Regions from separate parts of the Homo sapiens genome. Here region 2 is linked to region 1. Evidence: fine-mapped expression QTL. A gene starts in region 1. The other region holds a variant in brackets. All regions are shown on one strand. Distances are between the middles of the regions.

Region 1 (16,557 bases):
GGTCTGGAACTCCTGGGCTCAAGCAATCCTCCACCTCAGCCTCCCAAAGTGCTGGGATTACTGGTGGGAACCGCCACGTCCAGCCAACGTTTGTTGGCTCATATTTGCACATGGAGTCACGGCCACACACGGTTTACAGGTCTTAACCTGTTATGAATACCAGCGCTGCCTTCTTAGACAGGTTATGAAATGTGGCCACCAGTACCCTAGAGAGGCAGCAGACACATCTTCTGCTGAGATCCCAGGGGAGTGGGCACTGGCCAAGCCCTAGGTGAGCCAGGGGGAGGACTGGGGGGTCTGACAGAGGGTGAGCTGCCTGGTACCCGACTCTCTGGGATGGAAGGGGGCTACCCCCAGGGATCCTGACTCATGGAGTCAGCTGGGAGATGCGAGGTGTCCCTTCAGGGCCAGGATTCCCGCCCACCGCCCCCGCTGCTGGTCAGTGCGTTTGTCATGCTGCCCGTCAGAGGGCGCAGGTTTGGCAGTGGCACTCTGACGGCGTCCAGGTGGCACGTGAAAGCTATGGAATTTTACAGCCACTTTTACTCCACTGGAACATTGCTCTAGGCGTGAGGCTTAGATTGCAGCAAGCAATTTAATTTTGAGGTTTTAAGCCCTCAAGAGACGTTTAGATGTAGACAAACTTGCTGCAAGACGCAAGACGCAACAGAAACGCATCTGGAAGACAGCAGGGAACATTTGTGGCTGGGAGTAAAAGCCCTTCTAGAAACCTCAGCCCCACACGTCCTTGAGGAGGGAAGGTTAAGCCCCTCGCCTTCCCAGCACACACACACACACACACACACACACACACACACACACAAAATGAAGCCACTAAAAAACAACTGTCTGGCCAGGTGCGGTGGCTCACACCTGTAATCCCAGCACTTTGGGAGGCCGAGGTGGGTGGATCACCTGAGGTCAGGAGTTCGAGACCAGCCTGACCAACAAGGTGAAACCCCGTCTCTACTAAAAATACAAAAATTAGCCAGGCGTGGTGGTGCACATCTGTAATCCCAGCTACTTGGGAGGCTGAGACAGGAGAATCACTTGAACCCAGGAGGCAGAGGCTGCAATGAGCCAAGATGGCACCATTGCACTCCAGTCTGGGCAACAGAGCAGGATTCCATCTCAAAAAAGTAAAATTAAATTAAAAAAATTGGCCAGGCGCAGTGGCTCACGGCTGTAGTCCTGGAACTTTGGAGAACAAGGTGGGTGGATCACAAGGTCAGGAGATCGAGACCAGCCATGGCCAATATGGTGACACCCCGTCTCTACTAAAAATACAAAAATTAGCTGGGCATGGTGGCGGGCACCTGTAGTCCCAGCTACTCGGGAGGCTGAGGCAGGAGAATAGCTTGAACCTGGGAGGTGGAGGTTGCAGTGAGCAAGATTGTGCCACTGCACTCCAGCCTGGGTGACAGAGCAACACTCCATCTCAAAATAATTAATTAATTAATTAAACAAAAAAAAAAAAACCTGTCCAGTCCCAGTCCTGTGGGGAGCTCAGCCCTGCTTCCACACCAAGGGCATGAGTTCTGCGGTAGACGACTGGGACTAAGGCTGAAAGAATGGCGTCCGGTCAGTGTTTCTCAGCATTGTTTGTAGCCCACCAGCCTCACAACTGCTGGGGAAGCATCTTCAAAGTTCAGATTCCTGGGGCCAACCTTCCAGGGCAGACTCTGCAGGTCTGTGGTGGTGGGCCCAGGGGAACAGCATTTTAGACAAGCTTCCAGGTGACTTTGAAGGCCCCCAAAAGCCTGGGAACCTGAGAAAAGAGGGTAATGGAGGGTGAAGTAGAAAGAGCCCCAGCTGCCAAGCCATACCAACCTGGGTTCAAGTCCTAGCTTTGCCACATGTACACTGTATAACTTTGGGCCAGAGACCTCATCCCTCTGGGGCTTGGTCTGTAAAATGGTAAAGCAACCTCACACGCAAGGCTGTGGCGAAGGTAAGATGGGCAAATGCGTGCAGCATCCCAGCCTGTGGCTCAGCACTGAGACATGGTGCTGAGAATGACCACGGACTATGAAGGTGCTACTGCAGGAAGGAGAAGCCAGAGACGCTGAGCACCATCTGTGGAGGGGCCAGCTCTGCAGCTCTCTCCCAAGCAGTGTATGGGAGAGAAAAGAGACTCCTGGGGAAGAATGGAGGAAGTGACGTGGGGGAGGGAAAGCGACAGGACAGTGAGCCTGAAAAACACAGGTGAGATGTCAGGAGCTCTGGCACAGACCTCACTCCCAGCGCGATCCTGCCAGACGCTCTCGCAGCCCCGCAAAACGAGGCTGCCACGCCTGTATGCTCTCCTTGCCCAAACCCTTCCTGAGGTCAGCTATACCCCAAAAGAGAGCATCTTTGGACCCAGGTGGCAGGGTGGGCCCTCCTCCTGCTCCTCACCTGCCCACTCTCAGAACTAAAACTTGAAAGGAGCATGCCAAAAGGACCACAACCAACACTTCCTCCAGATACAGCAAGGGTAAACTGAGTCAGGGTCTGCCTGTTCCTTCCTATCCCCAGGAAGGGCTGGGCTCAGGAGAACAATGGCTCAGACTCAATTTGTCTCAGCTTGATTCATGTGTGTCCCCTGAACCCAGGTGGTGGGTGGAGGCCAAAACCCCTCAGGCCGGCCCATGCGGTTCATTCCACGCCATCCTTGGCAAAAAGGAGGAATTATGATCTGACAAGCAGGACCTGCTGCTTCCTGCTCAGCGCTGCCCAGCATGAAAGACTACAGCTCAGGCCTCCCCTCTCTCCAGGGGACAGAGTTCCTCAAAACCAACAGGAAACTCCTATGGGGCAGAGCCAGGAGTTGGCTGACCTTATCCCATAAACAGGAGAGTCGACACAATCACACACCAGGCACTTCCGACCTCCCTCTGCTGCTGTAAATGCCCAAACAGCTCAAAACTCCCAGCATGTGAGGGGGAGGGGCCAGGGGGGCTCAAGGGTGTGCATTCTGCCAGGACCACACACAGCTCTATCTACCTCTTGCATGGGAAAGAGGTCCAGGGGAGCCGGGCGCGGTGGCTCATGCCTATAATCCCAGCACTTTGGGAGGCCAAGGCGGCGGATCACAAGGTCAGGAGATCAAGACCATCCTGGCTAACATGGTGAAACCCCGTCTCTACTAAAAATACAAAAAAAATTAGCCGGGCGTGGTGGCGGGCGCCTGTAGTCCCAGCTACTCGGGAGGCTGAGGCAGGAGAATGGAGTGAACCCGGGAGGCAGAGCTTGCAGTGAGCTGAGATTGTGCCACTGCACTCCAGCCTGGGTGACAAAGACTCCATCTCAAAAAAAAAAGAGGTCCGGGGGATATCATTATATGAAACAAAAGCAAACTGTGAATCAGCAACTCAAACATGACCAGATTTTTATAAAAATAAGCAAATGGTAACAATAGATGTGGAAGAATATACCCCTTCCCATTCACACCTCTGAAGATGAGAATCAGCAGAGACTCATTTCCTAGATGACATTAAAGATCCAAACAGGTCTGGCATGGTGGCTCACACCCATAATCCCAGCACTTTAGGAGGCCAAGGCAGGAGCATCTCTTGAACCCAGGAGTTCGAGACCAGCCTGGGCAATGTAGAGAGGCTCTATCTCCATAATAAATAAATAAATAAAATTAGCTGGGCACAGTAGTGCACACCTGCAGTCCCAGCTAGTTGGGAGGCTGAGGCAGGAGGATCGCTGGAGCCTTGGAGATCGAGGCTGCAGTGAGTCATGATGGTGCCACTGCACTCCAGCCTGGGCAACAGAGTGAGACCCTGTCCCCCAAAAATAGCCAAACAGTATAAAACCATATAATGAATATACAACTATGTTGGTAATTACAAAAAAAAAAAATTACTATTTCTTTTAAAATCCAGGCTGGGAGACTCAGGCCTTCCTTCACACAAAAAACTGAGGTGAGAGATAAAGGCAGGAAGGCCTCAGGGCAGACAACAGAAGACCCTGGCCCAGGATTCCAGGGTCTGGATTCAAGCCGCATGTCCTTGCCTTCTTTACAGATGAGTCTGGGCAAGCTGCTTCCTCACTCTGATTCTCAGTTTCCACATCTGTAAACTGGAGATAATGGCCACTGCCTAAGCATCCTCAAATGGTCAAATGAGATCACCGACCTGAGTATGTCTGGCAAATTACACAGCCGTCTATACACACACCAGCTATGACTCGGGACCACCTTCTAGGACATGCACTCTGCCAACTGCCTGCTCTATGTCAACATATTTAATCCTCCAAATGTTCTAAAGGGACTCTCCTGCCTCTGGGAACTGTTTTCCAAAGCACAGGCCAAGGAATCCCAGTCCCCAAAGATGTCTACACGATCAAATAAGTGTGGGGAAACACGAGTCGCTAGCTCCCTTATCGTGATCAGCTCAATCCTGATGACGGCTCTGATTCAAGACTCTGATAAGTCCTGCAGCAAGGATAACAAGAAGTCTTTGTTTCCTGGAATTATCAAACCACTGTGACCGAAGAAACTGGTGTCTCATGGAACACACTTGGGAAACGTGGTCCACGCTTTTTGGGAAATGTGGTCATGAGGCTGCATTAGCAAGACCCAGACTGATAAGATCTGGGGTGAAGGAGAAAAAACAGAGGTTTGCAATGAAACAACTCAGCATTCAATGAGTGCGGCAAGCACACATTACTCAGCGGGAGAAGGAGGAAGAGAGTAATTCTGCTGTCTGCCACTCTACCCTGGACCTACAGCAAGAAAAGCAAAGGACTGTGGGGATGGAGATGCTACCCTTTGCTCCCCAGGCTGGGAAGGGCACTTGACTGGAGCTGGAGCTGGCTGAGAAGGAGAGGGGCCCAGTCCTTACCCCAAGGATGGCTCTGCTATCTGCGCGTCGGCTGTCGGTGCTGAGGCTGGCCCGCGTCTGCCTGTGCAGGATCCTGGCATTCCTTTTGCTCCATGGACGCTGCCTCCCTACAAGGAAGCGAGAGCTGCCGTCAGCAGGCACATGTGTGACTGTCGCAGTTACCTGCCACACCGCCAGCACTTCCTGAGAGCCTGCTTGGTAGCAGGCCCTTGGCTGGGCTCTGGGGTGACAAAAGAGGTTTTTTTTGTATAGTGGTGCAATCTCGGTTCACTGCAACCTCCGCCTCCCGCATTCAAGTGATTCTCCTGCCTCAGCCTCTCGAGTAGATGGGATTTCAGGTGCGCACCACCAAGCCTGGCTAATTTTTTGTATTTTTAGTAGAGACAGCGTTTCCCCATGTTAGCCAGGCTGCTCTCAAACTCCTAACCTCCAGGGATCTGCCCGCCTCGGCCTCCCAAAGTATTGGGATTACAGGCATGAGCCACCGCGCCTGGCAGACAAAAGAGGTTCTGACAGAGCACCTCCCTCCAGAACCTGGTCTACTGAGGAGGTGCCAAGTCAGTAGCGACGGTCTGAGAGCTCAGAGCTCTGCTGCGGGGGAGCCAGGAGAAGCACTAGACCCAGACTAGTGGGGTCAGGGAAGGCTTTCTGGAGGAGGAGTTGTCTGAGTTGACTCCTAAGAGTAGGAGCTGGAAAAAGAGCATTCCAGGCAGGAGGAACAGCACATGTTTACCTGGAGGAGAGAGTACATGGCATCTGGAGAAGGCTTGCGGGCTCGGCATGGCGAGATCCAGAGCCAGAGAGGGGAAGTGGCAAGAGATGAGCCACAGTGGGGTGGCTGGGTCAGGCAGAGACCAGCCAGTGCCCAGACTCCAACTTAAACACCAAATCCACCCATCATCTCCGACAGTCAACCAGCCTCTGGTGAGCATCTACTCCATATGCGCCAGACACTGTGCAGAACTGTGCATGGGAGTGGCAGGGTAGGGAAAGCTGTGATCACTACGACACGGGTTTCGGGGAGCCAGGAGCTGGGAGAGTGGCCCAGCCACCAGAGAGAGCCAAAGGATCAGCAGGAGTTACCCAGGAAGGAGGAGGGCGGGGGTAGACAAAGACACCTGGACTGATCTAGGAGGGATGGCTGTTTTTCCATCATTTCTACCACTGGGTATTTACTATATTGACTAAGTTCCAGGCCCTGTGCTGGGAGGGCAGACATGGAAGATGGTCTCCGCCGTCATGGGAGGTAGGTCAATAACCCTGCAATTCCATACGGGGTGGTGGTGACTAGGCAGTAAAGTACCTACAGCTATATAGGCACGGAGGCCATCCAAGCCAACCTCTACCTCACTCTACCCTCCTTGTCAAGGATGGGGCACCCACTGAGGCTGGGTGGTCCAATCACCTGCCCATGGCAGAGCCAGGTCCAGAACTTGGGCCCCTGGACTCCCTGTCACTAATTATTCTAGTCCCTCCTCTTCCAGAAAGCATACCCTGACCACCCCCTACATAACCACCCAGAGCTAATTCCTTCTTCCTCTGGGCTGCCTCTGTAATATTTCTATTAATATGGTGGCCACAGTATATCAGAACTTATGTGTCTTCTGGTTTGCCTGTCCTCCCAGACTGCAGCTCTCAGGAGGCCAGGGATGTTTTCCCAGCCATCCCAGGCCCAAGACAGGCACTTTCTAAAGAATGGCTGAATGAATGAATGAATGAATGAATGAGTCAAGGCATGGAGAGACACTGTGCTGGGCTCTAAGAGCCCCACATCCATCCCACCTGAATCTCCAAGAGGTCTTGGCCCATCAGTGTGTGCCTCAGTTTCTCCATGTGAAAACCTGGAATCAGCTCTACTCTAAGACGAGGCAGTCAGGAACCAGGCTGATTTCCCTCCAACTCCTACAGGCAAGGTCCAGGCCAAGCCAGGCAGCAACCCAGGGTCCGGCCACTTCCCTGAGTTCTGACCCACGGCAGTGATCCCCAGGATTCCCTACAGTCCAGAAAGGTCATTCAAGAGTTTGCAAAGGAAACGGCTTCCTGGTGGGTGTGCCTAAGGGATGGAGAACCACCACATCTAGTCAAGTTCTGGGGGGAAGTCATGAACATTTCCTGTGCCCCCGCTCTGTTTTTTTTTTTGTTTTTTTGAGATGGAATTTTGCTCTTCTTGCCCAAGCTGGAGTGCAATGGCGCGATCTTGGCTCACTGCAACCTCTGCCTGCTGGGTTCAAGCAATTCTCCTGCCTCAGCCTCCCGAATAGCTGGGATTACGGGTGCGCAGCCCCATGCCTGGCTAATTTTTTGTATTTTTAGTAGAGACAAGGTTTCACTATGTTGGCCAGGCTGGTCTCGAACTCCTGACCTCGTGATCTGCCCGCTTCAGCCTCCCAACGTGCTGGGATTACAGGCGTGAGCCACCACGCCCGGCCCTGCACCCCCTGCTCTGTACCCTATGGTCCCTAGAACGCAGAGGGCATCAGACCCCATGCCAAAGCCCTGAGACCAGGAAAACAAGGAAGCAGAGACCAGCCACCCAGTCACTCATCCCTGGCATGTCCACAACAGCCTCCTCCAGCACAGGTCATCTGTCCTTGCCTCACTTCATGAGCCAGAGGAAGACTTGACCTTCATGGAAGCAACACCAGTGAGACTGAGCAATCAGCACTGCCCAGTCTCTCTGAACAAACTCCCACTCCCACATCCCCTCCACAGGAAGTATCAGCAACAGCCGATCTCCTCCCGCTTCTTACAGCCTGTCTGTCTGCCAGGTTGTCTGCTCCAAAGGGCAGAATACAGTTTGGCAGGGGTTAAGAGTACTACTAACAGAAGAGGTGGAAGAGGTCCTTGGGAACTTCGGGCTCCCCCAGTTCCCTTCCTCTTACCAGGTGCTCTCCCTCCACACCTCATTCTCAAAAGGCTTCCTGAGGTAGGGCAGGGGAAGAGGAGTCAGTGGAAGTGTGGCTCACCCAGGAACCGCCCACCCTTCCAGCCAAGTCTCCATCAGGAGGCGGCTACCAGACAACCCCCGACCCATCCCTCCTTCCCAAAAAAGGCAACAATCGCAACAGCTGAGAACCGGCAGACCTCGGTTCACCCCGGTCCAGATCAAGGGGAAGAAGCAGTCAGCGAAAGCAGCAGAATCATCATGAACTCCATGACCCCAGCTATGCCCCTTCAGCCTGGGAGCTCAGTTTGCTGGGTATCCAGCTCACCTAGGGCTGCACCAGGCCTGGACCTCACTGGATCTCGCCTCGCCCTCGGGCCCACCTGAATGCACAGGACTGGGACAGGGTCTGGGTTCTTAGATTCCGGACCGGTCTTCCCAAATATCCCATCCCAGAAAGGCCCCAAGAGCCTAGCCGGGGATCCTGCCCCCAAGTCAGGGCACTGCCCCCATCGGAACGATAGGAAGGAGGGGTGCAAGGGAAGAGAAGGGGACCAGGAACTCAGGAGAAGACAGCTAAGGAAATCTTTGAAAAAGAAATGGCAAGGAGAGAGCCCAGAGGTGGAACCTCTAGGAACGGGAGAGTGTGTGTGGAGGGGTGAGGATCTGGGGGGACCCAGGGGATGACAAGGGGACATGGGGGAGCCGAGGCGGAAACTCCTGGTTTCTGAAGCACAAGGAGGCACAGGGGTGCCTGGGAGGGGGCTCGCGCGCCGCGGAGCCGGCGAGAAGGTGGTGCCCCGGAGACTCCGGGCACTGGGGAGCCCAGAGGTAGGCCGAACACCGCGGGAGGTCCCCAGGGGGCCGGCCCGGAGACAGAGCCCCAGATGCCCCGGGCGCCCCGGGCCGGGCAGCTGGCCGAGGGCGTGTGTAAGTGGGTTTCGAGAGGTGACAGCTCGCGCCCCTTTCCCCACCCCGTCCACTCACCTGGGCTCGCCGCGCCCGGCCGCCCGGCAGGCAGCCCCAGGCCCCGGCCGCTCCGTCCCGCCGCCGGCCGCAGCGCTGCTCCGGCGCCTCCTTTTGTTTGTCCCTCACTGCACCACTCAGCCTCCTCCGCCCCGGAAGTGACGTCACCGCCGGGCGCGAACGCGGCGGCCAGGGCGTCGCCATCTTTATGAGGAGAATTCTAGCGGCGCTTTCTCCCGCTCTCGCCTCCGCGCTAGCGCCCTGCTGCTTCGGGGCGGAAGTAGCGGAGCCGGGCTCGGCCCCCTTAAAGGGACAGGGACTGCTGCAACCTACGGGGTGTACTTGGGAACGAGGGGTGAAGCGGCCCAGGTGAGGGTGAGTAGCTGTGTCGGAGCGCCACTTCCCCAAGGTCAGGTGCCGAGGCTGGGAGGGTCGGCTAACGGTTCCGAGCTTGGTTGTGCTAGAGTGCTTAATGAGTTTGATGCTACTAAGTATAACGGAGTGGCTGCACAGAATGATTGAGCCGCCCGCGGGAATCAACTGCGCGTGCTGCTCGCTGATTCTCGCTCGGACACTGGGGCTGGTCCTGTCTGCACCCAAATCCCCCTCCCACGACCGCGCCGGTGGAGATGATACCCGAGACAACAGAATTCTGGACAGATCTGGGGTTGGAATTGGGTCCCCAGACTCCAACTCTGCAGCTCCATAAATCCCGCTGGGTCCTCGCAAATTCCCTGGCTGATAACAGTACCGGCAACCAAATTAAAAAATAATCCATACAGTGGAATACTGTGCAGCCATTAAGACGAACAATGTTTAATATGCACTAATGTAGGGTGACTTCTAAGATACCTTAGGTTAAAAAAGGAAACAACAGTAAAAACAGCGTTGGGCCGGTTGCGGTGGCTCACGTCTGTAATCCCAGCACTTTGGGAGGCCGAGGCGGGCGGATCACGAGGTCAGGAGATCGAGACCATCCTGGCTAACTTGGTGAAACCTCATCTCTACTAAAAATACAAAAAAATCAGCCGGGCGTGGTGGTGGGCGCCTGTAGTCCCAGCTACTCTGGAGGCTGAGGCAGGAGAATGGCATGAACTCGGGAGGTGGAGCTTGCAGTGAGCCGAGATCGCGCCGCTGCACTCCAGCCTGGGCGACAGAGCGAGACTCCGTCTAAAAAAAGAAAAAACAGCGTTGATGGGTGCTATCCATCTTTGCGTAGAAGGACGCCTGAGGGTGGGCGTATCTGCGGGTGTGCGCGCCAGCTGTCTGATAAGATGCACAAGAAGTTGTTAATTGCGGTTGTCTCCGACAGAATTGGGGTCTTGGGTACCTGGGCCAGGGCGAGAAATTTACTACCATGTGCACAGATAGATAATTAAAAATAAGATGATGAAGATAGTCGTGGCTCCCATCCATCACGTGTTAAGCCAATGCCTAGTTTCACTTCTGTTGGGAGGTCTTATTTTTCCCTTTTAATAGAAGAGAAAAGAACCTTAGAGAGGTTAGGAAACTTAGCAATATCATAGCCAGGGCCGGGCGCGGTGGTTCACACCTGTAATCCCAGCACTTTGGGAGGCTGAGGCGGGCGGATCACGAGGTCAGTAGATCGAGACCATCCTGGCTAACACGGTGAAACCCCGTCTCTACTAAAAATACAAAAAAATTAGCCGGGTGTGGTGGCGAGCGCCTGTGGTCCCAGCTACTCGGGAGGCTGAGGCAGGAGAATGGCATGAACCTGGGAGGCAGAGCTTGCAGTGAGCTGAGATTGGGCCACTGCACTTCAGCCTGGGCAACAGAGCAAGACTCCGTCTAAAAAAAAAAAAAAATCATAGCCAGGAAGTGGAGAAGCTGGAATTTGAACCCTGGGAGATTTACACTAATGCCCATGATCTAGCTTATCCCTCGCCACTGAGATGCTTTTTCTGTTGTCAGTCACGCAACACCCGTCTTGGGGCCTGGCACACAACAGGCATCCAGTAACTATTTATTGACATGATGTGTGGTGTGAAAAGCAAACGTTGAAGGTCAGAGCCCAGGCTTAAAGTCCAGGGCTTGGGCACCTCTTTCCAACCTGTGGACTGTGGGCCTGCCAGGTACTCCGTGGGCCTCCATGTCCCCGCCTGTAAAATGAACAACCAGAACCACAGTTGTAGACAGTGAATGTTCCCACGTATTATACTTTGTATTTTACACGCAGATAAGTCTCATTTTACAGATAAGTGAGGCACAGAGAGATTAAGAAAGTTGCCAGAAGGGGGTTCCTACAGGTCTCCCTCCCTCCCTAGGAAGGCTGCTGGGCTCCCAGGCCTCTCCCTTAGCTTCCCAGGATCATCTGTGCTAATGCCTGGGGGACCTACTCTGTGCTGGGTGAGCTGCCAGAGGCTGAGGATCTGGTGGAGAACAGGTCAAGCACATAGTTCCTGTCCTTGGAGTTGAGCGCCCCCGTGCTGAGTACTTTGAGGGCGGAAGCCCAGGTCTTGGGACCACCTGGGAGGGGACATGTGGCTTAGCCTGGGTGGAGTCAGAAGGGGCTTCTCCAAGGAAGGGACTTTCAATGTGACTGGAAACTAGGATGTCCAGAAGGAGAAATGATGAGGCTGGAGACTCAAGGAGAGATGGGCTCCTACCCTGGACTTGGCCTTGGTGTCCACTAAGAAACTGAGGGTGACCAACAGGATTGGAGAATATACAAGTTAGACCCATTCAGTCTGGCTTCAGCAGGAATCTTTCCTCCCGGAGAATGCCTCCATTAGGTGCCAACCACCAGAACGCCACACTAACCTCTCCAAGCTCCAAAGAGTAGGGCGCCTGATTTTATAATCCAGGTGGGGGCGATAAAGGAATGCAGGAGCCTTCACAGCCATGAGGCAGTCACTGTAACTCCTGCCAGAACAGACCTGGGGCCACATCCCACTCCTGGATGGCACTGCCAGTTCCCTGCATAATTCCTTTTTTTTTTTTTGAGACGGAGTCTCACTCTGTCGCCCAGGCTGGAGTGCAGTGGTGCAATCTCGGCTCACTGCAAGCTCCACCTCCCGGGTTCACTCCATTCTCCTGCCTCAGCCTCCCAAGTAGCTGGGACTACAGGCACCCGCCACCACGCCTGGCTAATTTTTTGTATTTTTAGTAGAGACGGGGTTTCACCGTGTTAGCCAGGATGGTCTCTATCTCCTGACCTTGTGATCCGCCCACCTCGGCCTCCCAAAGTGCTGGGATTACAGGCGTGAGCCACCGCGCCCGGCCTCCCGGCATAATTTTTAAAATGCTCATCCTATGCCCTCATTCCCCAGCTTGCAGCTGGGGGCCTCCTGGTGCTTTTCTGGGACTTCGAGTAAGTCATTTCCCCTCTCTAAGCCTCAGTTTCCCCACCTGTAAAGCTGATGCCACCTCCTCCAAGGCTCCCGCGAGGCTATCTGCCTATCTGTTGTGTGTTCCTTTAATGTATGGGAGTGAGATTGTGGTTTTTGAATCTGGGTCCTGTGCCAGGAGGAATAAGTGGTGAGATACCTACTGTTTGTGTCACTCAGGTCTTCCACCAACCCCTCCAGCCTGTAAACCTGCCGTCTGGACTCCAGAAGTCATTTCTCTCTCCTCTGCCAATTCCTAAGCCCAGGGGGACTGTGTCTGAGTGACGCAATTGTTAGATCTCCTCAGACAGGCTGTTCTCTCCAGGAAAACATTGGCTCAACAAATTGTCACCAAACATTTGTCTTCAGGGAATTCTGTTTTTTTTCTATCAAAAAAAATTTGGATTCATTATATAATAAGAGATTTTTCATTTTGCTTGGTTACTAATTTTATGGAAAGCCTGGTAGGTTTAAATGTTAATAGCTTGTTGACTGGGTGTGGTGGTTCATGCCTATAATCCCAGTAATTTGGAAGGCTGAGGTGGGACTATCGCTTGAGCTCAGGAGTTCGAGACCAACCTGGGCAACGTGGTAAAACCCCATCTCTATCAAAAATACAAAAATTAGCTGGGTGTGGTGGCACGTGCCTGTGGTCCCAGCTACTCTGGAGGCTGAGGTACAAGAATCGCTTGAAACTGGGAGGCAGAGGTTGCAGTGAGCCGAGATTGTGCCACTGCACTCCAGCCTGGGCGATAGAGCAAGACTGTCTCAAAAAAAAAAAAAAGTTAATAGCTTGTTGTCATTGACAAGTGGCTGTGAGCCAGGACCCACAGTATATTCTCTGTGGATTCTTGTCACCTTCATTGTACAGATGAGGAAGCTGAGCCCCCAAGAGGCTGCGGCCTGGCATGACCAAGGTCCCATAGCTAGTTTATGGTGGAGCTGGGACTATTTGATCCAAGTCCAAGGTTTGGTCTTCTGTGGTTATTCATGCACTAGACTGGTCTTCCTGGGCATGGTATCCCCAGTTCTGTACCCTTTCTCTAGAGGTGCCACGATGTGTGTTGTCTCAGTAACTGGGAGTCTCCTGGCATTTTAAGCCCAGGGATGCTAAACATCCTTCAAGGCTCCAGATAGCTCTCCCCAGTGAAGAACTGACTCATCTCAAATTCTAAGTGTGCCCCTATTGAGAAGCTCCAAAACCGAATGTCATAATTGACTTGAGTGATGTGACGTGGGGCCACCCTGGGAAGGCATGGTCACCTCGCCTGCCCTTGTAAGCAGCCATGCAAGGTGAAGTTGGACAAGACATGGCTCCTGTCCCCAAGGGGCTGGTGGTCTCCTGTCAGCCCTAGCACCCGCCTGAGAGGAGATTTCACGGGACAGAATTTGGACTTTGGAAATAGGCAAACCAGGGTTTGAATCACAGCTGGAGCTCTCTAGGCTGAGTGAGTTTTCCTTGTTCTCCTTTTGAGCAAAATAGAGTAAATAATACCATCCTAATCAGCTGTGATGAGGATTAGAGAATTTAGCATGGGGTTGGGGGAGAGGGTCAGGCACAGGTAGGTGCTTTCTGAGTTCAGCAAAGGGCCTGGGTGGACACAGAAGCTTCAGAGAGGAGGTACAGGTGGGGCTAGGCCCTGCTAGGGATTTTGGATTGGAGGGTATGCCAGGCAGGGGAAACAGCTTGAGTGAAGATGGGCAACATTTATTCAAAAGCAAAGGGTGGCTGGGCACAGTGGTTCACACCTGTAATTCCAGCAATTTGGGAGGTCAAGGCAGGCAGATCACCAGAGGCCAGAAGTTCAAGACCAGCCTGGCCAACATGGTGAAACCCCATCTCTACAAAAATACAAAAATTAGCCGAGCATGATGGTGGGTGCCTGTAATCCCAGCTACTCGGGAGGCTGAGGTGGGAGAATCACTTGAACCCGGGAGGCAGAGGTTGCAGTGAGCCGAGATCGTGCCATTACACTCCAGCCTGGGTGAAAGAGTGAGACTCCATCTCAAAAAAATAAAAATAAAAATAAATTAGCTGGGCGTGGTGGCGTGCACCTGTAATCCCGGCTACTTGGGAGGCTGAGGCAGGAGAATCACTTGAACCCGGCAGGTGGGGGTTGCAGTGAGCCAAGATTGTGCCACTGCACTCCAGCCTGGGTGACAGAGTGAAGAGAGAGGCTCTATCTCAAGAAAAAAAAAAAAAAAAGGCCGGGTGCCGTGGCTCATGCCTGTAATCTCAGCACTTTGGGAGGCCGAGGCAGGCGGATCACGAGGTCAGGAGATTGAGACCATCCTGGCTAACATGGTGAAACCCTGTCTCTACTAAAAATACAAAAAAAATTAGCAGGGCGTGGTGGCGGGCGCCTGTAGTCCCAGCTACTCGGGAGGCTGAGGCAGGAGAGTGGCGTGAACCCGGGAGGTGGAGCTTCCAGTTAGCTGAGATCACGCCACTGCACTCCAGCCTGGGCGACAGAGCCAGACTCTGTCTCAAAAACAGAAAAAAAAAAAAAAAAAAGAACAAAGGATGACTGGGTGTGGTGTCTCATGCCTATAATCCAAGCTGTAATCCCAGGACTTTAGGAGGCCAAGACCAGAGGATCACTTGAGCCCAGGAGTTCAAGACCAGCCTGGGTAACATAGGGAGACCCTGTCTCTATTTTTTTTTTTTTTTAAAAGCAAAGAATTTGAGCTGGGGGTTGGGGCATGCACTTATAGTCCCAGATACTCAGGCGGCTGAGGCAGGAGGATCACTTGAGCTCAGGAGTTCAAGGCTCCTAGGTGACAAAGCGAGACCCTATCTCTAAAATAAAAAAAGAGTAAAGGGAGGGAAGGTGGAGGCTGCCAAGCCTGGATTCCAGCCGGCTCCAAACGCCAGGCTGAGGAGGCTTTGGACTTTGTCCAGTGTCACCACAGGCTTCTGGGCAGAGCTGGTCCAATGGGGGTTGGGGGACAGTGGCATAGCTGACATCAGCCCCTGGGTTATTGACATCAGCCCCTGGAATGCATCAGTGATGCATTCCACGGGCCCAGGGGTCATCCACTGCCTTCGGGTCAAGCAAATGGCCAGTAGCTGCCCAGGCTGATAGAGGTGTGTGTTGGAGGGGGGCACAGGCCACTGGCCCTCGGCCCCTGGCCTGGCAGCAGGGAGGCCTCAGATCTTAGATGCCTGAGAGCTACCCCAGAAGGGTCCTCGGCACAGCTATGGTCCCCATGCCTAGTGGTGCTGGGCCTCCTCGGTGCTGCCAGATCACCTGAGCTGCCTCCATTGCAGCAGTTATCCCACACATTTTTTTTTTTTTTTGAAGCGGAGTCTTGCTCTGTCACCTGGACAGCTGTCAGGCTGGAGTGCAGTGGCTCAATCTTGGCTCACTTCAACCTCTGCCTCTCAGGTTCAAGTGATTCTCCTGCCTCAGCCTCCCGAGTAGCTGGGACTACAGGTGCCCACCACCACACCCGGCTAATTTTTGTATTTTTGTAGAGACGCGGTTTCACCATGTTGGCCAGGCTGGTCTCGAACTCCTGACCTCAAGTGATCTGTCTGCCTCGGCCTCCCAAAGTGCTGGGATTACAGGCGTGAGCCACCACGCCAGTGAGCCAAGGTCACACAGCTGCACTCCGGCCTGGGCGACACAGCAGGACTCCATCTCAAAAACAAAAACCAAAAAAAAAAAAAAAACAAAAAAAAACAAATTGAACATAAATGGAATAATGGAAGAAATAGCTAGCTGTGGGGATGGCAACTCTGCAGCTGTTCACAGTTTGGGAAACCTGAGATCTGCATCCAGAGAAACTTCTTGAAGGCAAACTTATCAACATAAATGAGGAAAGTGGTTCTAAAGAAAAAGATAATGACCCAGAGGAAATAATACCAGCAAAACTTCACATTAAAGGAACTCCCTGGGCTGAGCGCAGTGGCTCACGCCTGTAATCCCAGCACTTTGGGAGGCCGAGGTGGGCAGATCACTTGAGGTCAGGAGTTCGAGACCAGCCTGGCCAACATGGTGAAACCCCATCCCTACTAAAAATACAAAAATAAGTCGGGCATGGTGGTGCGTGCCTGTAATCCCAGCTACTCAGGAGGCTGAGGCAGGAGAATCGTTTGAACCTGGGAGGCAGAGATTGGAGTGAGCCGAGATCACGCCACTGCACTCCAGCCTGAGTGACAGAGCGAGACTCCGTCTCAAAAAAAAAAAAAAAAAAAAGGCAGGATTATCTCACCACAAAATGTACAGAACAGGAACTCCCAGAGATATTTCACAACATTGAAAACAAAGGATGACTAAGGATGACTCGTATTCATCAAGACATAGAAGATGTCAGGTGCAGTGGCTTACACCTGTAATCCCAGCACTTTGGGAGGCTAAGGCAGGATGATTGCTTGATGCCAGGAGTTCAACATCAGCCTAAGCAACATAGTAAAACCCCCATCTTTACAAAAAAAAAAAAATAGCTGAGCATGGTGGTTCGTGCTTATTGTCTCAGCAACTCAGGAGAATGAGGTGGGAGGATTTCCTGAGCCCGGTAGGTT
Region 2 (8,436 bases), 26 kb before region 1:
TCACTGCTCCTCCCCACCAGAACCTCCTGGACTGTCCCTTTCCCCTCCACCTGGCTTCCTCCTCCTCGTTCTTCAGGGGCCTGTTCCTCTGTGTTCCCAGGGACCTGGTGCTCCAGCAGAGCGCCTACGCACTGTGCTAACTGCCTCGTTACTTGGCCTTCTTCATCCCCATGTCCCCGGCGCCTTGCTCCATAGCTGGATTCTAGAAGTGCTCAAAAAACATCTGCACAAAGGCCAGGCGAAGTGGCTCATGCCTGTAATACCAGCACTTTGGGCGGCCAAGGTGGGAGGCTTTGAGGCCAGGAGTTTAAAGACCAGCCTAGAAAACACAGTGAGACCCTGTCTCTACCAAAAAAACAAACAAACAAAACATAACAATTTGCACACATCAGTAAACGAGTGAACGAATGAATACTGTCTTGTCAAGGCTTTCATTAGCAAGAGTATAAATCTGGAGAAACAGCACGCAAGGGCGTGGGCAGGCCACGCCCACCCCTCCTGGTCACCACTGGCCAAGGTGGCTGAGAAGGAGCCATCAAGCCCGAGTGAGGAGGAAGAGGGGCTCAGGCCTCCCACTCAGAATGAGGGGCCTGCCTGGGGTTGGCCCAAGTGAACTGTTTTCCCTATTAAGGCTCTGGTGTTCCAGGGGGTGGGGACAGGATGTGATTAAGCCATGTGCTAAACAGGGTGTCCAGAGGGTCTCCTTCCTCTGGGACAGCGTGCTTGCCGCCAGCTCCTTTCCTGAGGGGTGACCTCAGCCAGCAGGCATGACACTAACAGGCAAGCTTGGCGGGAGGAGCTGGGGGTGGGGGACAGGATGGGGAGCCAGGCTGGAGGCTTGAACCCTCCCCCAACCAGGAGGACAGCCCCAGCACAGCACCCGGGACAGGGCAGGAATGGCAGGAGCTGTGAGGAAGTCCCAGCTTATCAAGGGCAGCACTGTGCTATGGGGAAGCCACAGGGTCTCCCCCTCCACAGATTAAAGAAGGGCTGGGTTTGTTCTGTGCTTCCCAAATGTGGCTTCTCCCCAGGGGACTCCAGTTTTCCTATTCAGTGGGCCTGTCCCGAAACTACAAGAGAAAACCCTGCCCTGGTCCACTCTCCCACTGTGCTCAAGTCATAATATGGGGTGGCCGGAGATAAGGACTTGTCAAAATCCCTGATACATGTGGGTTGCAGGTTGCTCTGCAGTAAGGGAGCCCTGGGGAAGAGGGGAGGAAGGCTTCCAAGCCAGCAGGCATCTGGAGGGCCTGAAGCATCTAGTCTGAGTGATGCTGGAGAAGGTGTGTCCTGTCCTGGGGCCCAGGAGGACAGACAGGGCATTCCAGGGGCCACCTCCCTCCGTGCCTGAGGATACTATAGACAGACCGGGCATTCCAGGGGCCACCTCCCTCCGTGCCTGAGGATGCTATAGACAGACCCTGTTGGGAGGACTCAGCAGGTTGGTGGAAGGAGGACAGGTGCATCATGCCTGGCACAGGGCGAACACAGAGCAGGTGCCCACGAAACCAACAGGGACTGCACCGTGGGGCTGCTGCATGGCAGATGCACCCAACAGCAACAACCGAACTAAGAAACGCGGGTTGCCACACGGAGGCTGCAGAGGGGAGGGTGCTTAGTGAAAATGCTCTATGAGCTGCACGCTTTTTATAAGCAGGAGTGGTTTTCCTATTTGGCTCACTGCTGCTGGACCACCCTGTAAGTAAGTTCCCCCAAATAAACCCCATGTTTCAATGGCCGGCTCCAGGGCTCTTCATTTTACTTTGAGACTGGGTCTCACTCTATTGCCCAGGCTGAAGTACAGTGGTACAACCATAGCTCACTGCAGTCTTGAACTCCTAGGCTGAAGCGATCCTGCCTCAGCCTCCCAAATAGCTGGGACTACAGGCACATGCCACCATGCCTGGATCATTTCTGTATTTTTGGTAGAGATGGGGTTTCCCTATGTTGCCCAGGCTGGTCTCGAACTCCTGAGCTCAAGTGACCGCCCCACCTTGGCTTCCCTAAGTGCTCGGATTACAGGTTTGACCCACTGGGCCTGGTCAACTCCGAGTCTCTTCTTCAGCCTCCTGAACCTGGTGGCATCCCTAGTGAAGTTCACAGGGGCCCGGCACGACAGCTGCTGCTGTGTCGGGGGCAGAAGGGTGGCTGGCTGGGCTCTCCCTTGTCTCCCAGCGCCTGGCCTCAGGCTTCCTCCACCACATGTCTCACTACAGGAATCTCCACCTGGATGTGAGGCCCAGGAAAACCTGCAGGTCCCCAGGACGGGTGGAAGAGGGACGTTCCCCACAATGGCAGTGGCTTTGTTTCCATTTCGGAGGCCAGACCACAGAGCCACAGGAGTACCCAGCCCTCCATCCACACTGCCTGCCTCCACCAAGGGGCCCTTGGATGGGGGCTTCCCCAGCCAGGTAAGAGACTGGCACCCACAGACCACCAACAGTCTTGAAAGTATGTCGAAGGTGTGGCCTCCCAAACTCCCAGTGACAATGATTTGCACAATTTCCTTTTCAGAAGGGCAGGCAGAAACAAACTAGCCCCATCTAGGCCCAACTCTGCCTCTGACACCACCAAATGCAGTGGAGAAAGGTGTGTGGGAGCTGCAGAGACCATCCAAGGCTTCCCCTCAGCCAGCACTGGCCACCCACACAGTTTCTGTCCTGGGTGGACCCGGATTGGCTCCTTGCCTCCAAGTCCGACTGGGAACAAGCTGAGGAAGACACAAACTCCAGGCTAAGTCTTGACTCCCACCACCCGGCTTTGCGAGAGAACCCCCGGGTTTGGACCTCCTGCCCAAGCACATCCCTGCTGAAGAGGAACCCGGCTCAAGGTCACCTTGGGGGACAGACCTTGCCTGGCCATGCAGTCTCTCCAGGCAGGAGAACTGCAACATTTTGGAGCAAAGACAGGCCCGGGGCCCAGAGATTCGGATTCAGCAGGCCTGGGATGGGGCCCAAGGAGTCTGTCTCTTGAACAGAGCTTCTATCCTGGATGGTTCTGTAAACCCCAGGTGAGGACTCCACACTCAGGGGCATCGACGGTCCCAGGACACTGAGCCTGCCGAGTGCCCCACCACAAGCCCTGGCCAGGCCACCCGCCAGCCCACACGCAGAGCTGTGGCCGGGCCACTCACCCGGTTGGCCGTGATGGCTAGGTTCTGGAGGTTCTGCAGGAGGCCGATGTCGGCAGGGAGGAAGGTCAGGTTGTTGTGGCTGAGGTCCAGGTAGCGCAGCTTGCGGCAGTAGAAGAGCTGGGTGGGGATCTTCTCGATCTTGTTGCGGTTCAGGTAGAGGCGCTCCAGGTTGGTGAGGTTGCCGATCTGGATGGGGATGTAGGCGATGTGGTTGTACCACAGCTTAAGGCAGGTGAGGCGGTGCAGGTGCTGGAAGCTGATGATCTCCTCGATGGTCTTGAGGTTGTTGTCCTTGAGGTCAATCTCCTGCAGGTTGTGGAGGCTGAAGATGGAGTGGGGGATGCGCTCCAGGTCACAGCGGATCAGCTCCAGCTCAGTCAGGTTCGCCATCTTCTTGAGGCTGTTGAGGACGATGAGCTTGGTGCCCTCATTGTTGATGGACAGCTTCTGCAGGTGCACGCCCACATCTGTGACCACCTGTGGCAGCTTGCTTAGGTTGCTCTTGAGCCGCAGCACCTTGAGGCGTTTGAGCTCCCGCAGCCCGTCGATGACGATGTAGCGGTTGTTCTCCGCGCTCAGGTTGCCCGTCAGGTGCAGCTCCTCCAGTGTCTTCAGGCTATAGATCCACAGCGGGATCTCCTTGATGTCGGTGAACTTGATGTGCAGCGCCCGCAGGTTCTCACGCAGGAAGGCCAGCGCGGGCGCTTCAATCTTGGCCGCTGTGTGGTAGAGCCACAGCTCCTTGAGGCCCGTGAGCTGGGCAATGCTGGGCGGGATGGTCACGTCGGGGATCAGCTCCAGCTTGAGGACCTCCAGCTCCACCAGGTCAAACACAGTGTCAGGGATGCCACTGAGCATGAACAGGTGCAGCTCCAGCTTGTCCTGCGCGTTCTTGGTGAGCCGCTGCCGGAGCTTGTCCAGCGTCCACTCGTTGTTGAGGTTCAGCTGCCGCAGCTTGTTCTCACTCACCTCCGACAGGAAGACGGCGAAGCGCTTGGAGTAGAGCGGGTCGTATTGGTCAATGAGGTGCAGCATGAAGGCGAAGTCGTTCTTGACGTCGGGGATGTCGCTGTAGCTGCTCTCCTCACGGATCGACTCAAACGAGTACTTCTTGAGGGAGCGCCGTAGCATCCACCACAGTGTATACATGCAGATGAGGCCGTAGAAGATGACTAGGCTGATGTAGAAGGACGCCAGGATCTTGAAGAGTGTGGCCAGGGGGTGGGCACAGCGGTAGGTGCGGTAGCCCGTCAGGCTCTCAATGTCCACGGTGCAGTCCACGTCGAACTTGATGTTGTGCACGTAGTAGACGGTGTAGCAGATGATGAGGATGAACTTGATCACCTTGATGATGGTCTGCCGCATGTAGAGGCGGTACACAATGTCCCCCTCCTCCACATGGGTCCGGAACTTCTTCACCTTCTCAAACAGCGCCTTGGCTTGCTCCCCCTCCTTCTTGTCCAGCACGCCCGTCTCTGAGCGGTCCACGATACCCTGCTCGATCCGTGACTTGGTCCGCTGCAGCATGGGCACGGTGGCCTCCACGTCCTCACTGACGGTCGATGACTTTTTGTCCATGGACCCATTCATCTTGCTGAAGGCCGGCTTGGGGTCGCTCTCCTCCACCACTGTCTCCGACAGGGCCCTCGTGGTCCAGGGCGAGTCGAAGCACTTCAGCAGGATAGACACAAAGTGCTCCAGCTTCGAGCTGGTGCGCGGGAATTTGAACCAGAAGTTGCTGCAGGCCAGGAAGATGAGCGTGTGCAGAAGCACCAGGTAGGGGAAGTACTTGGCAAACCAGTGCAGTCGGTTCTCATAGCACAC[A/G]GCGTCCACGTAGTTGTACTGGTGCCGGTCCAGGTCATACTTGATGCCTGTGGGGCCCGTGTCAGGGGTCGGCAGAATGGTGGAGTTGGGGTAGGTGGGCTCCGGGCCAGGGGCTGCCCAGCCCCGGAACGAATCATTGCAGGAGTCCTTGGTGACCCACTTACAAGGCAGGCAGATCATCTTGTCTTGGGTGACCTGCAGCGTCCCCCCGAAGACGGCAATCATCAGCATGACGATAGAGATGTAGTCTGTGAACACATCCCACCACGGCTTCAGGATCCGGTATGCTGGCTGCGTGTCCGCAAAGTAGCGGAGCTCTGTCACCGGAATCATGGTTCAACCTAAAAGGGAGCCATAGGAGGGGGGTTAGCACAGGGTGGCCTGGCTTTCCTAGGACCAGGGGTCAGGGGAAGAAGACAATGAAAATTCTTCCATTGTCCAAAATTCCACCTCAAATCTAGCTGGGAGCCAAAGCCTGCCTACTCCACGGGGCAGCCCACTTATCAGCCCTTCTGCAGAAAGCATGTGGCCACTTGGCTGGGAAACCACCCTGGGGGAGGCAGGCAGGCTCCCCATTTAATACACAGGAAGACTGAGCACAGTGAGATTAGACAGATCCCCAGTGCAGCCTCAGGGTTCTCTGCTCCATCCCTTGCATTCCAGTAAGAGCAATCGGGAACTCCTTTCTAAAGTCCACCTATTTAATGAACAGATTGACCAGAGGGACACATTTAAAACTCCCAGTTCACTGGGAACCAGCTGCTGTAAAGCTGCAGCAAAGGGCTGGAGGGATTCCCGCAAAATATGAGGAAAGAAAGCAACATGCAGAGGGGGCACAACATGAACTCACTTCCATAAAACAAAGAGCAAGGTTTAAAAATTCCACGTGGTTCACGTCTGTAATCCCAGCACTTTGGGAGGCCGAGGTGGGTGGATCACCTGAAGTCAGAAGTTCAAGACCAGCCTGGCCAACATGGTGAAACTCGGTCTCTACTAAAAATACAAAAATTAGCCTGGCGTAGTGGCGGGTGCCTGTAATCCCAGCTATTCGGGAGGCTGAGACAGGAGAATCACTTGAACCCGGGAGGTGGAGGTTGCAGTGAGCTGAGATTGTGCCATTGCACTCCAGCCTGGGCGACAAGAGTGAAACTCCAACTCAAAAAAAAAAAAAAAAAAAAAAATTCCACATGGGGGCTGGCATGGTGGCTCACGCCTGTAATCCTAGCCTGTAATCCCAGCATTTTGGGAGGATGAAGTGGGAGGATCGCTTGAGTCCAGGAGGTTGAAGCTGCAGTGAGCTATGACCCCGTCGCTGTACTCCAGCCTGGGTGACAGAGACCCTGCTTCAACAACAAAATTCCACATGTGTGTATAGTTATGTGTGTACAAGATTCTGGGAACACTCGGAAGACCAAAGGTCACATAGTGGGTCTTAATGACAGGCTCCTAGGGGAGCGGCCTCAAGAGAGGGGATTAAGAATAAGGCTCTCCTCCCTCACAAACTGGGTGATCACAGAGAGGCCTTAATGTAAAATCATCTCTGGTTGCGTGTGTATAAAGGAATTAAAAACAGCAGCAACAGCAGGCTCTCCCAGAGAGAGTCTAGTTTGACTACTATGGCGAGAAGCTGGAAATCTGATTTTTCTTTTTTTTTTGAGACGGAGTCTTGCTCTGTCGCCAGGCTGGAGTGCAGTGGCATCATTTCGGCTCACTGCAACCTCTGCCTCCAGGGTTCAAGTGATTCTCCTGCCTCAGCCTCCCGAGTAGCTGGGACTACAGGCCTGCACCACCATGCCCAGGTAATTTTTGTGTTTTTTAGTAGAGACAAGGTTTCACGATGTTGACCAGGATGGTCTCGATCCCTTTACCTCCTGATCTGCCCGTCTCAGCCTCCCAAAGTGCTGGGATTACAGGAGTGAGCCACCGTGCCTGGCTGGGAACCTGATTTTTAACACATAACTTTGGTGACTCTAATGATTGGCCAAGCTTGGGAAACACTGGCTGAGAAGCCACATTAGGAAACCCAGACTGTGCTACACAGGAGGCACGCAGCAAGATCTCTGTGAGAATGCCTCTCTGTGGCCATTCGTGGTCACACGGCCAAGGCTGGTTGCTCTTACAATGAAAGACGTATGGCTGTCACGGAGGGATAAGGTACTAGATGTTCCCTGGAGAACATACGGAAAATTGTAAAAAAGCGTAGCAGCAAAAAAAGAAGAATCCGCTTTACAATCCCCACCAGGGTTACACACTGTTAACTTTTCACTGAATAATAACCTTCCAGTCCTTTCTGTGTATTTTATAATTTTATAATTTTTCTTGTAAGAGATTGGATCTTGCTCTGTTGCCCAAACTAGAGTGCGGTGGCGTGATCATGGCTCACTGCAGCCTCAACCTCCTGGTCAAGCAATCCTCCTACCTTAGCCTCCCCCAGGTAGCTGGGGCTACAGGTGTGTGCCACCATGCCTGGCTAATTTTTTTTTTTTTTTTTTTTTTTTTTGAGACGGAGTCTCGCTCTGTTGCCTAGGCTGGAGTGCAGTGGTGCGATCTTGGCTCACTGCAAGCTCCGCCTCCCAGATTCACGCCATTCTCCTGCCTCAGCCTTCCAAGTAGCTGGGACTACAGGCACCCGCCCACCACACCCGGCTAATTTTTTTTTGTATTTTTAGTAGAGACGGGGTTTCACCGTGTTAGCCAGGATGGTCTCGTTCTCCTGACCTTGTGATCCGCCCGCCTTGGCCTCCCAAAGTACTGGGATTACAGGTGTGAACCACCATACCTGGCCCATGCCCGGCTAATTTTTAAAATTTTTTGTAGAGACAGGATCTCACTATGTTGGCCAAGTTGGTTTCAAACTCCTGGCCTCAAGCAATCCTCTGGCCTTAGCCTCCCAAAGTGTTGGCATTACAGGAGTGAGGCACTGCACCCAGCCCTTTCTGTGTATTAGAATAAATTGTGCTTTTATTTATTTATTTATTTAGAGACAGAGTATTGCTCTGTCACCCAGGCTGGAGTGCAGTGGCACAATCTCAGCTCACCACAGCCTCCGCCTCCTGGGTTCACATGATTCTCCTGCCTCTGCCTCCCAAGCAGCTGGATTACAGGCACACGCTACCACGCCCAGCTAATTTTTGTATTTTTAGTAGAAACGGAATTTCGCCACGTTGGCCAGGCTGGTCTCGAACTCCTGACCTGAGGTGATCCACCTGCCACGGCCTCCCACAGTGCTGGGATTATAGGTGTGAGTCACCATGCCTGGCCAAATTGTGCTTTTACTTTACATTCAATTTTTACTTTACACTGTAACCCAGAACCTAGATTTTTATCTAAACCAAGTTTTAAATGCCTGTGTCAAATGTGTCTGTCTCTCTTAGGAGAGGAACAGGGGTGCCCAGATGATGGGCCACCTTTCTTTGATTACTGATAATGTTAATAACCAGAATAGTAACAAACTTTTTTTTTTTCCCTTTTTGAGACAG

What was found. PIP is the estimated chance that this variant, and not a neighbour inherited with it, causes the effect.
Region 2: its variant is fine-mapped to the expression of LRRC8A in whole blood (TOPMed, PIP 0.96).

The regions. Positions count from the first base shown.
Region 1 is chr9:128,874,397-128,890,953 of GRCh38, reverse strand. It overlaps LRRC8A (leucine rich repeat containing 8 VRAC subunit A), which reads right to left and starts at 8,821. Exons shown (of 4, transcript NM_019594.4): 1 at 8,704-8,821; 2 at 4,833-4,939. KYAT1-SPOUT1 (KYAT1-SPOUT1 readthrough) reads left to right here and starts at 9,004. Exons shown (of 25, transcript NR_182311.1): 1 at 9,004-9,057. It overlaps KYAT1 (kynurenine aminotransferase 1), which reads left to right and starts at 9,004. Exons shown (of 13, transcript NM_004059.5): 1 at 9,004-9,057. RefSeq lists enhancers at 4,746-5,508, 8,785-8,934 and a silencer at 8,475-8,754.
Region 2 is chr9:128,904,019-128,912,454 of GRCh38, reverse strand. LRRC8A (leucine rich repeat containing 8 VRAC subunit A) reads right to left here. Exons shown (of 4, transcript NM_019594.4): 3 at 3,134-5,298. The coding sequence starts at 5,290. It overlaps LOC101929291 (a long non-coding RNA gene), which reads left to right. Exons shown (of 4, transcript XR_007061808.1): 3 at 2,217-2,411; 4 at 2,515-3,140. Among named protein-coding and RNA genes, the nearest start is that of PHYHD1, 13 kb to the left of the region's middle. RefSeq lists an enhancer at 1,930-2,713. The variant A/G (reference allele first, on the strand shown) is at 4,958.